2 separate regions of the Homo sapiens genome follow, and region 1 is linked to region 2. Evidence: fine-mapped QTL for protein levels in blood plasma. Region 2 holds a variant in brackets. A gene starts in the other region. All regions are shown on their forward strands.

Region 1 (5,348 bases), not on the chromosome of region 2:
AAACCGCATTCTCAGGAGGCTGTTTTCAGCGTTCCTTATCACACACTCCACTCCTTGTCCTGTTTTCAGGGTCAAGGAATTATATTCTCATGCACAAATAACATACACACAGTGCCTCAGCATTTTTCCATGCCCCAACCTCAAATGCCTTGTACATAAGTTTGAGTATGTGGCTGTGCGCCCCCCACACTTTTCTGGCCCAGGTTGTTTTGGTCAGGCATTGGGGAAACATCAACCCAACGTGTAAAAAACATTAAAAGAGCAATTTAAATCTTTTCTGAATTCTCTTGACAAAGACCAAAGGGAATCCATTCATGACACCCTGTAGAACTTCTTAAAATAGTCTTTCCTGAATTCTCTTAAAATCTTACACACACTGCAATGTGTGTGCCCCTTTTATAACTTCCCACAACTCTTCCCCCAGATTGGGCATTGCTGACTTTTATATTTCTACTCTTCCTTCCTCACCTCCTGATCTCTTCCTTTAACTACCATCTGCCCATTTCTTTGTGTTTTGTTGTTATTTGTTTTTTTGAAACAGGTTCTTGCTTTGTTGCCTACACTGGAGTGCAGTGGTGCAATTACAGCTCACTGAAGCCTTGATCTCCTGGACTCAGGTGATCCTCCTGTCTCAGCCTCCCAAGTATCTAGGACTACAGGCACATGCCACCATGCCTGTCTAATATATATAAAATTTTATTTTTTATAGAGATGAGGTCTTGCTATGCTGGTCTTGAACTCCTGTGCTCAAGCCATCCACCTGCCTCGGCCTCCCAAAGTGTTGAGATTACAGGTGTGAACCACTATGCCCAGCTTGCCCATTCCATTGTAAAGCAATGAAGCCAGTCTGAGAACAACAGTTTCACCTGATCTATTACCCCAGTTCTCCAGGAAACGATCTGGCATAGATCCAACTATCTTTTAATGTTCAAAGGAATAGAAGAGCCTGCTAACGCTCATTTATTAATTCGCCTAATTTTGGATACAAATAGTAAAATATATAAGCCTGTAATCTTTATTTACTCTTGTGGTGTAAATATTCACCCATCAGGAGCCCCAGGAGGACCCTGTCCTGGAGCTGAGGGTAAGCCCTGAAGAATATGCAGGCTTGGAAGGGGAGCAGAGGGAGGCAGGAAGGTGGTGAAGGGGGAGGTGTTGGGGAGAGGAGGAGGGAGGCAGAGAGAAGAGGAGAAATTCCTCTGTCTCTGTCTCTCTCTGATTCACTCTGTCAGTGTCTCCTCTGTCTGTCTTTTGTCTCCATCTCTGTCTCTGATGCTCTTGCTCATCCTGTGGGGAGAGAGGGCTGAGGAGGGAAGAGTGGGATTGGGGCGGGGGACAATGGCAGTGCCAGGTGGAGACTTGTCCTTCAGAGTCCCCAGACACCCCTTCCTAAGCATCTCTATCTCTCTGCATCTATCTCTGATTCTGCCTCTCCCCCAAGACCCACCATATTACTCTCTTTCTCTCTCTCAATCACTCTCTGTTTCTTTCTTTAATCTCTAATTCTAAAATCCAAAAACCTTTGAGACAAAGTTTTCTTCTAATTCATTTGACAGAAAAAACCTGACCCAAACTTTGTGATGCTATTTATTGTCTCTATAGAGCCCACTTAGTGTGAATATTTTTGTATTTTTATATTTTATGGAGAAATATTAGTAAGACAATAGTATAAGTGATATGGTTTCTAAAGTCCTATAGTTCTGAATCTGAAGTAAGCCATTAAGATGAAGAATTACTTGCAATTATTTCCTGTAATACATGTTCTATTTTATGTCCATATTTATGTAGGGCTAAACTAGATTTTCCTTCCTTTTTAAAATAATTTATTGTACAAACATTCTGTATATAAATCTATAAAAGATACTGAAGAACATGCATTCCTCAAGAAGTAGAACATGGGGTATGTAAATAAAAATTATTCAAAGCTTAGGATTAGCAAAAAGAGATCACTGGAGTAAATGCTCAATGGATTCCTGGGCATTTTCTAGCAGGCCCTCTGGAGATGATCTCTGACTGACTTTATTTAAAGTTCTTTTAGAACTCTTTAAGCATAGAGGTTAATTTGCAGTAAATTTATAGGAATGCAAATGACTCTTATCTGAGAACAATGCAAATGATTCCTGGTTATAGTAGAGCAAATATATTTTGTCCATTTTGTTTTAATTACTTTCCACCAGGTAGAAAAGCTAATTGCAAATATTACAGTTTGTTACTCTGTAGGATATTAACCAGTTTTGTATCTATTGGAAAGGTCACTTCAGAATGCTTTTGACTGACTGACTATATGCATTCCTATTCCTCAAATTCTTCTTTGAACCAGTTGTAGCATCTGAATGTTTCCTCATTAATTAATGAGTTGAATTAAATCTTTGATATATATTCATCTTATATTTACTTGTGTCATATTTTTAACTTTTTGAAAATCATGTCTTAGAGGGTGCTTACACTATAGGAATTTGCATATTAGTTAAGAAAAGATAAGACATAAAAAATCATAAGGCAGCATGTGATAAATGGCAAGTGATCATATGGATTTTGGGGGCTGTGGTAGAGTTTCTGGATGACAGTTTTTTTCATTTATTTCTGCATTACTTTCATTCATTTAACAGACAACTGCTTTGCAATATGAAGCACCGTGGAAGGGAATACAAATACAAATCAGACACAAACCCTGTCCTGGAGTTAGCAGTTTCCTGTGGGAATAAAGGGGAGGAAAAAAACACCTTTCCTCTACCATATTGTATTCAGTGGCTGGGACCTGCAAATTAGACTAAGACAGATTAACAGGAGAGAAAATTCTATTTATACATGTAACTTGAGTACATGTGGGAAAACTCAGTGATAAGTAATTCAAAAAGTTGGTTAGAATTGGGGCTTATACATCATCTTAATAGGTGAAGGTGGGGAGAAGAAAGGCACTTACAAGAAAACAGATTATTGGCCGGGTGCGGTGGCTCATGCCTATAATCCCAGCACTTTGGGAGGCCAAGGCGGGTGGATCATTTGAGGTCAGGAGTTCAAGACCAGTTTGGCCAACATGGTGAAACCCCATCTCTACTAAAAATACAAAAATTAGCCAGGCGTGGTAGCGCATGCCTGTAATCTCAGCTACTCGGGAGACTGAGGCACAAGAATGGCCTGAACCTGGCAGGTGGAGGTTGCAGTGAGCCAAGATCATGCCAAGACACCATCTCAAACAAAAAAGAAAACAGATTATTTTTTGGAAAGGCAAGTGGGTTTTCAGGGGAAAAGTAGGAAATTAGAAAGTTTTGTGATAATGTTTGTGTATATAAGTACGAGTGTTCTTTCTGTCTCCTTCAAGGCCATGAAATTTCTCTGGAGAAGGAATTTGAAATATGTTTTACTCATGCTCTCCCCTCCAGGATAGACCTACCCTGAAAAGGAATTTATGGCAACCTTATCTCCAAGGTTGCTGCCTTTAGTCAGATAAGGAAAGCCCCCAAAATCTCTGTTCCTTTCCATATCACTGAATCTCAAATATCTTCAGCTTAAAAGAATCTTAACGCCAAATATTTGGGGGTGGCATATCCTGATTCCTTTCAGGAGAAAGACATAGATTAATCATCACAAACAGTAGTAATGGATGGAGAAGAGAAGAACATTTGCAACCTTACTGTGTCCTTAATGCTTTATTATTCTATTAAAACCTGAAATTTTGTAGGAATTTTTCCCCAGTTTCATAATTACAGCACAGAGAACCAACCAAGGGTTATAGTAGTCACAAGCAAGATGATATGGGATCCCTCAAAACAATTTTACATGCCTTAATTCCTGAGACCAAAGCATTCTCCTCACCTCTCTCTTTACTCATTTGGTTAACTCTGGACTCAGGCCAAATCCTGTCCCTGGAAGAGCCACAAAGTAGGAAGCCTGGGTACAGGCCTGGCAAGCGAGAACAATGTGTCACTGCAGGACTTTGGAGCTCTCAGCTTTGGAGTCAGTTAAGACCAGTTCCTTGCTGGGAAGCCCTAACTCTGGAGGGACAGAGACAGGTAAGGTTAGTTTACTTCCTTGAGCTTTCGTCTTCAGTGCTGCTTACAGCCTTAGGATATCTGGTATTCAGGAAAGGAGGATGAGGTAGCATTCAAAATTGTGTTCTACCTGGGCAAGAACCAGGGATTGACAGCCCGTTCTCTTTCCCCAGTGCTGGCCAGAGTTACAGAAGTTGGACTGTAAACATTGGCAACTATTGACAGAAGTCAAGGTCATGGCAAGACCATTTGGCCCATGTTTGTTGGGGAAGGATAAGCCTGCGTTTCAAAAAGACTGGTCAACTGGATTTGCATTCCCAGAAACCAGGAAATTTCTGAAACTGAGTTTTAAACCTGGCAACTCTTTTACCATCCCTTTGTATTTTTGCAGTTCCTCCCTATACCAGCTTCCTTACAGCTGTTCTGATTTCCTGTCGTAAGATTTTTTCTTTTCATTTTCTCCAGGGAGGGTAAATCAATATAACCTCTTCTCTAGAGAGGAGGTGGTTAGGTTGGTCTTAAGCAGTGTTAGAAGATCTATTTTTTTTCAAACCAGGTGTCTGAGCTGGGTGAATTCCAGCCTGGGGAGAGGACTTTGATCACCAGATGTTTTTTTGGTGTGCGTGCTGTCTTATGGTTGCGTGGCGAGTTTCTGCTTCAGATGGTACGTATGCTTTCCTTCAACTCAGCTTACAGGCATTTGGTGTCCTTTTGCGGTGTTTTGAGGAACTCTGTCTAGGGCTTTAAGGAAGTTTACATTTATAATATCTTTATTCTTCTATTGAAAAATCTCAAATTGGCCTAATGCTCTGCACTCAATAGGAGCTTAGTGTACATTTAATGATAACCCTGATCTCTGAAGTGGGTGGTTACTGTTTTTTTACTTTCCCTTTCTGTTCTGGGAGCAAAAAGAGTACCAATTTCAAAATCCTGGGAGGTCTTACTTGTTATAAACTCCAGGATCGCTATTTGTGTAGGGGACTATTTGTTTAGAAGTGGACAACTTGTGGTTGAATTTGAGTAAAATTCCTGTTATACTTTTGAAAATAAAACTTCGGAATTCCGGCCGGGCGCAGCGGCTCAAGCCTGTAATCCCGGCACTTTGAGAGGCCGAGGTGGGCGGATCACGAGGTCAAGAGATCGAGACCATCCTGGCTAAGACAGTGAAACCCCGTCTCTGCTGAAAATACAAAAAATTAGCTGGGCGTGGTGGCGGGTGCCTGTAGTCCCGGCTACTTGGGAGTAGAATACAGAGTACTTGGGAAGAGCACAGGAATCAGGATCAATAATCCAGCAAAAAGACATGAGAATGGGGAAATCTAATAAGGGTTCTCTGACAGCACATGATATGCCAAG
Region 2 (5,384 bases):
CTTAGAAAAAAATGTAAGAATAGTACAAGGAGCTCCTGTGTGCTCTTTATAGAGATTCATCAACTGTTTTACATTTCACCACGTTTACTTTTTTTTATTATTATACTTTAAGTTCTGTGATACATGTGCAGAACTCTATTCAGAATTTTTGTTAGTTTCAATTAAATATATTTTCTTTGTTTTACACTGAAAATTCTCTTCCTGACCTGCCTCTTAATAAAGGTAGCATTTATTTGTTTTTTGTTTGTTTGTTTTATTTTATTTTGAGACGGAGTCTTGCTCTGTTGCCAGGCTGGAGTGCAGTGGCACGATCTTGGCTCACTGCAACCTCCGCCTTTCAGGTTCAAGTGATTCTCCTGCCTCAGCCTCCCGAGTAGCTGGGACTACAGGCGCACGCCACCATGCCCAGCTGTTTTTGTACTTTTAGTAGAGATGGGGGTTTCACCATTTGGGCCAGGATGGTCTTGATCTCTTGACCTTGTGATCCACCCACCTCAGCTTCCCAAAGTGCTGGGATTACAGGTGTGAGCCACCGCGCCTGGCCTTTTTATTTTATTTTTTTGAGACACAGTCTTGCTCTGTTGCCCAGGCTGGAGTGCAATGGCACAATCTCAGCTTGCTGCTCACTAAGGCGGAGGCCTCCCGGGTTCCATCAATTCTCCTGCCTCAGCCTCCCAAGTAGCTGAGATTATAGGCACCCACCACAACACCTGGCTAATTTTTTGTATTTAGTAGAGACGGGGTTTCACCATGTTGGTCAGGCTGGTCTCGAACTCCTGACCTCAGGTGATTCACCCAACTCGGCCTCCCAAAGTGCTGGGATTACTGGCGTGAGCCACTGCACCCAGCCCATTCATTTATTTAATAAATATGTTATAAAAATATAGTTTCCGGTTGTGCTGTATGTAAAAAATACAAAATGAATGCAACACAAACCCTGTTTTCAAGCAGCTAAAAATTTATTCCTTGGGAAAAACAGAATAGGGAGAAATTCCATGGAGAATCAATGAAAGTTTCAAAGACTGAGCTCTGAAGTGGGTCTAGGTGAAGAGACCATTTTTATTCACTTTTTTTCTAAGTGACTACAAGCTCATTCACCTAGTTAAAAGGAAATTTTATGATTTTTGTGGCAATTTGTGTAAGCATTAGAACTTTCTGAGCATCTAGAAAGAAGAGGCAAATAATTTTAATTCCTTGATTTGGTAGTTAATTACACAAGAGTGTCTATCTTGCTTTGAAGGGGCAGAAGTATTGCTAGCTATGTATCGGAGTTTGGTCAGAGTAAAATCTCCACAAATGATATAAGAGATTTATTATTGGAATTAGATATTATTTAATTAAGGGAGCTGTTTAAGTAGTCTGTTTTATTGCGTCACTGCTTCTGGTGGTAGGCTTTAAGTGAGCAGGGCTGGCAGTTAGCACGTGAGGTTAGCGGGGAGTAAAAGACACACTAGAATCCACGAAGACAAAAGATGAAACACGTCTCTTCTCTGCACATCCGGTTTGATGATGTGAGCGATCTGCAGAAAAGTTGGTGGATTCCACCATGGACCTGCACAGGAACCTGGTCCAGAATTTGGAAGAGCTGAAGGAAGGTCCTGTGATTCCTGGAGGAGCTGTGGGCACAGTTGCTGCCCTTACCTACATGTTGAGCCACTGGATGTGTAACAATATATGTGTACACTAAGCTCAAGGAGTTTTTGACGATTACATAGCAAAGTTACCAAGATATATGACATTTTATTACCCCAGAAAGATTCTGAGTACGCCTTCAGAATTCATTGTTCCCTTCATCAAAAGCAGTTATTTTTCTGATTTCTTTTTACCATAGATTAGTTTTGCCTGTTCTCAAACTTAAAAAGGTAATGAAATAGCATGTACTCTTTTATCTGGAATTTTTCTCTCAGCATAGTATTTTTGAAGTTTATTCATAGTGTGTGTCTCAAAAGTTTGCTCCTTTTTATTGGGTCAGGTGTAAAAGTGGTATTTTTGCTTTTGGCTTAACTCCCATTGTCTGGACAAGAACATTTACTTAGAAGTGCATGAATAAGGCTTGAGGCCACTGTATTATTCCTGGAAGAGCTGCCTCCTTAGAGATAACTTTCAGTGATAGAAAGTTATCAGTGATAACTTTCAGTGATAGGAAGTTATCAGTGATAACTTTCAGTGATAGGAAGTTATCAGTGATAACTTTCATTGATAGGAAGTTATCAGTGATAACTTTCAGTGATAGGAAGTTATCAGTGATAACTTTCAGTGATAGGAAGTTATCAGTGATAACTTTGGGTTACAAAATCTTTTCAACCCTGTGAGGCCCAAATTGCTGAATTCTCAGTAGGCTTGGATTTCAACACACAGAGAGCATTCCTGAGCAGAGCTGTGTTCTTCCATCTCAGCATCCAAATCCCTCAGATCTTTCCTGAGCTTTCTCTCATTAACATACACTAACATGTTACAATTTTCTTCTAGTTATCCTAGAGTTATGTAAATGTTGTTAGTATATAGTCTCTCTTCCACGATATCATAAACAATGATTTTATTAAATGTTTTGGCATGGCACAGTAAGAATCACTGACTATATTAGAGTTCTCCAGAGAAAAAGAGTGGAGATATACATGTATACACACACACACACACACACACACACACACACGCATATATATATACACACACATATATATGTATGCACATATATACATATAT[G/A]TGTGTGTGTGTGTGTGTGTGTGTGTATATCTGCTTTGACTCCTTCCTACTAGTTGCAATGCAGATTAAACAGCAAGAACTGGGATAACCACCCTGGATTGTGAGGTTGAAGATTGGGCCTGGATCCCTGATGATTCTGGAGTCTGGCCATCTACTAATTACCTGGACAACCTTGGGAAGCCATCATAGTACAAACATAGATGATTACATAAACCTAGATGATACAGCCTACTACTACACACCTAGGCTATATGGTATAGCCTGTTGCTCCTAGGCTATAAACCTGTACAACAAGTTACTGTACTGAATACTGTAGGCAGTTGTAACACAGTGGTATTTGTGTATCTAAACATACCAAAATGGAAAAGGTACAGTAAAAATATGCTATAAAAGATAAAAAAATTGTACACCTGTATAAGGAGCTTGCCATGAAGGGAGCTTGCAGGACTGGAAGTTGCTCTGGGTGAGTCAGTGAGTGAGTGGTGAGTGAATGTGAAGGCCTAGGATATTCCTGTACACTACTGTAGCGTTTATAAACTCTGTACACTTAGGCTACACTAAATTTATAAAATAATATTTTTCTTTCTTCTGTAATAAATTAACCTTAGCTTACTGTAACTTTTTTACTTTATAAAGTTTTAAAGTTTTTAATAACTTTTTGACATTTCTAATACTAAGCTTAAAACAAACATTGTACAGCTGTACAAAAATATTTTCTTTCTTTATATCCTTATTCTATAAGTTTTTTTCTATTTTTAAATTTAATTTTTTGTTGTTGTTGTTGTTAAACTTTTTTGTTAAAAACTAAGATGCAAACACATACTTTAGCCTAGGCCTGCACAGGGTCAAGATCATCAATATCACTGTCTTCCACCTCCATGTCTTATCCCACTGGAAGGTCTTCAGGGGAAGTGGCATGTGTGGAACTGTCATCTATGATAACAGTACCTTCTTCTGGTAACCTCCTGTAGGATCTGTCTGAAGCTGTTTTACAGTTACCTTTTTTTTTTTTAAGAAGGAGGACCTGCTTAAATAATGATAAAAAGTATAGTAAATACTAGATGATAGGAATTTTTCAGCTGCATTATAATCTCATGGGACCACTGTCTGCCTGTCTTTCTATCGAGAGAGAGAGAGAGATTTAAGGAACTGGCTTATACAGCTATGAAGGCTAAGTCCCAAATTTGCTGGATGTGCTAGAGCCTGGAGACCCAGGGAAGAGTCAACATCGCAGGTCAAGTGCAAAGGCCATCTGCTGGAGAATTCCATCTTGTTCCAGGGAGGTCAGTCTTTTGTTCTATTCAGTTCTTCAACTGACTGAAGCCCACCCACATTATGGAGGGCCATCTGCTTTACTCAGTCTAACAATTCAGATGTTACTGTCATCTAAAAACACCCTCACAGACACACCCAGAATAATACTTGACCAAATATCTGAATATCATGGTTCAGCCAAGTTGAACATAAATTATCTAGCCATCATACTGGCTTTCTAACCTGTAGTGTTTGTGACCTTGCCCTCTGTTACTTGTTTATTAAGGCAGTTCTTCACTTAGATTCTGCTACAACAACTCCACGTGGTACCAAATTCAGTATTAGTTAAGACAGTTTTTCTTCTAATATAACGGAGAGAGAAAGAGACTCAAAATAATAGGGACTTAAATAAGAATCTGAGTAGGCTTCCCAGAGTTGTCTAGGTAATCAGTAGATGGCCAGACTCCAGAATCATCAGGGATCCAGGCCTAATCTTCAACCTCACAATCCAGGGTGGCTATCCCAGTTCTTGCTGTTTAATCTGCATTGCAACTAGTAGGAAGGAGTCAAAGCATAATTCAACATTACTTCCACTCACATCTCATGGATCAGACGTAGTCATATGGTTATGGTTATTACAAGGCAGTTTAGGAAATTAGCCTTGGCTGTGCCCAATTAAAAATCCCATTACTATGGAAGGAAATGAGAACAGATACTGAAGAGTAACTAGAGGTGTCTGCTACAAGTTGGAAATTCCTTGATCAGGTAATGCTGGAAGATGTGAAGAGAATAACAAAACTCTTTTTTTTTTGAGACGGAGTCTTGCTCTGTGGCCCGGGCTGGAGTGCAGTGGCACAATCTCGGCTCACTGCAAGTTCTGCCTCCCGGGTTCATGCCATTCTCCTGCCTCAGCCTCCCAAGTAGCTGGGACTACAGGGACCCGCCACCATGCCCGGCTAATTTTTTGTATTTTTAGTAGAGACAGGGTTTCACTGTGTTAGCCAGGATGGTCTCAATCTCCTGACCTCATGATCCGCCCACCTCAGCCTCCCAAAGTGCTGGGATTACAGGTGTGAGCCACCGCACCCGGCCCAAGAATAACCAAACTCTTAAGCAAGAAAGCCAGTTTGAAAGATTTTACAATAATCAAGAAGTAGTTGACATAGCCCTTACGTAATGAATGGCAGGGGATAACTGCCATTAAAAGTATGAGCTATAGAACTATATTGCCTGGATTTTAATCCTGGTTTGGACATTTCCAGAGAAATTTTGTACAAATAACTGTCTTGCCTTAGTTTTCTCATCTGCAAAGTAAGAATAATAATTCATGCCTCAGAACTTAATTGAAAGATTGAATGAGGTAACATATAACACACTTAACGTCAGGTAAAAAAGGAAATGAAGGATAAAGTTCTAGGGCAGACTGA

Alleles and levels. Positions count from the first base shown, and alleles are read on the strand shown. Strength reflects both the effect of a copy and how common the allele is.
For the plasma level of the protein whose gene starts at base 3,927 in region 1, G is the low allele of the variant in region 2 and A is the other (weak association).

What was found. PIP is the posterior inclusion probability: the model's chance that the variant is causal. Protein levels are from antibody-based Olink assays in UK Biobank. Linkage for the fine-mapping came from a reference panel and not from the study's own genotypes, which makes the PIPs less certain.
Region 1: it holds the start of C4BPB, and the variant in region 2 is fine-mapped to the plasma level of the C4BPB protein (UK Biobank, PIP 0.92).

What each region holds. Positions count from the first base shown.
Region 1 is chr1:207,084,934-207,090,281 of GRCh38, forward strand. It overlaps C4BPB (complement component 4 binding protein beta), which reads left to right and starts at 3,927. Exons shown (of 7, transcript NM_001017365.3): 1 at 3,927-4,013; 2 at 4,549-4,656. The coding sequence starts at 4,599. RefSeq lists an enhancer at 20-229.
Region 2 is chr3:94,108,115-94,113,498 of GRCh38, forward strand. All of the region lies in intron 5 of NSUN3 (NOP2/Sun RNA methyltransferase 3), which reads left to right. Among named protein-coding and RNA genes, the nearest start is that of NSUN3, 48 kb to the left of the region's middle. The variant G/A (reference allele first, on the strand shown) is at 2,704.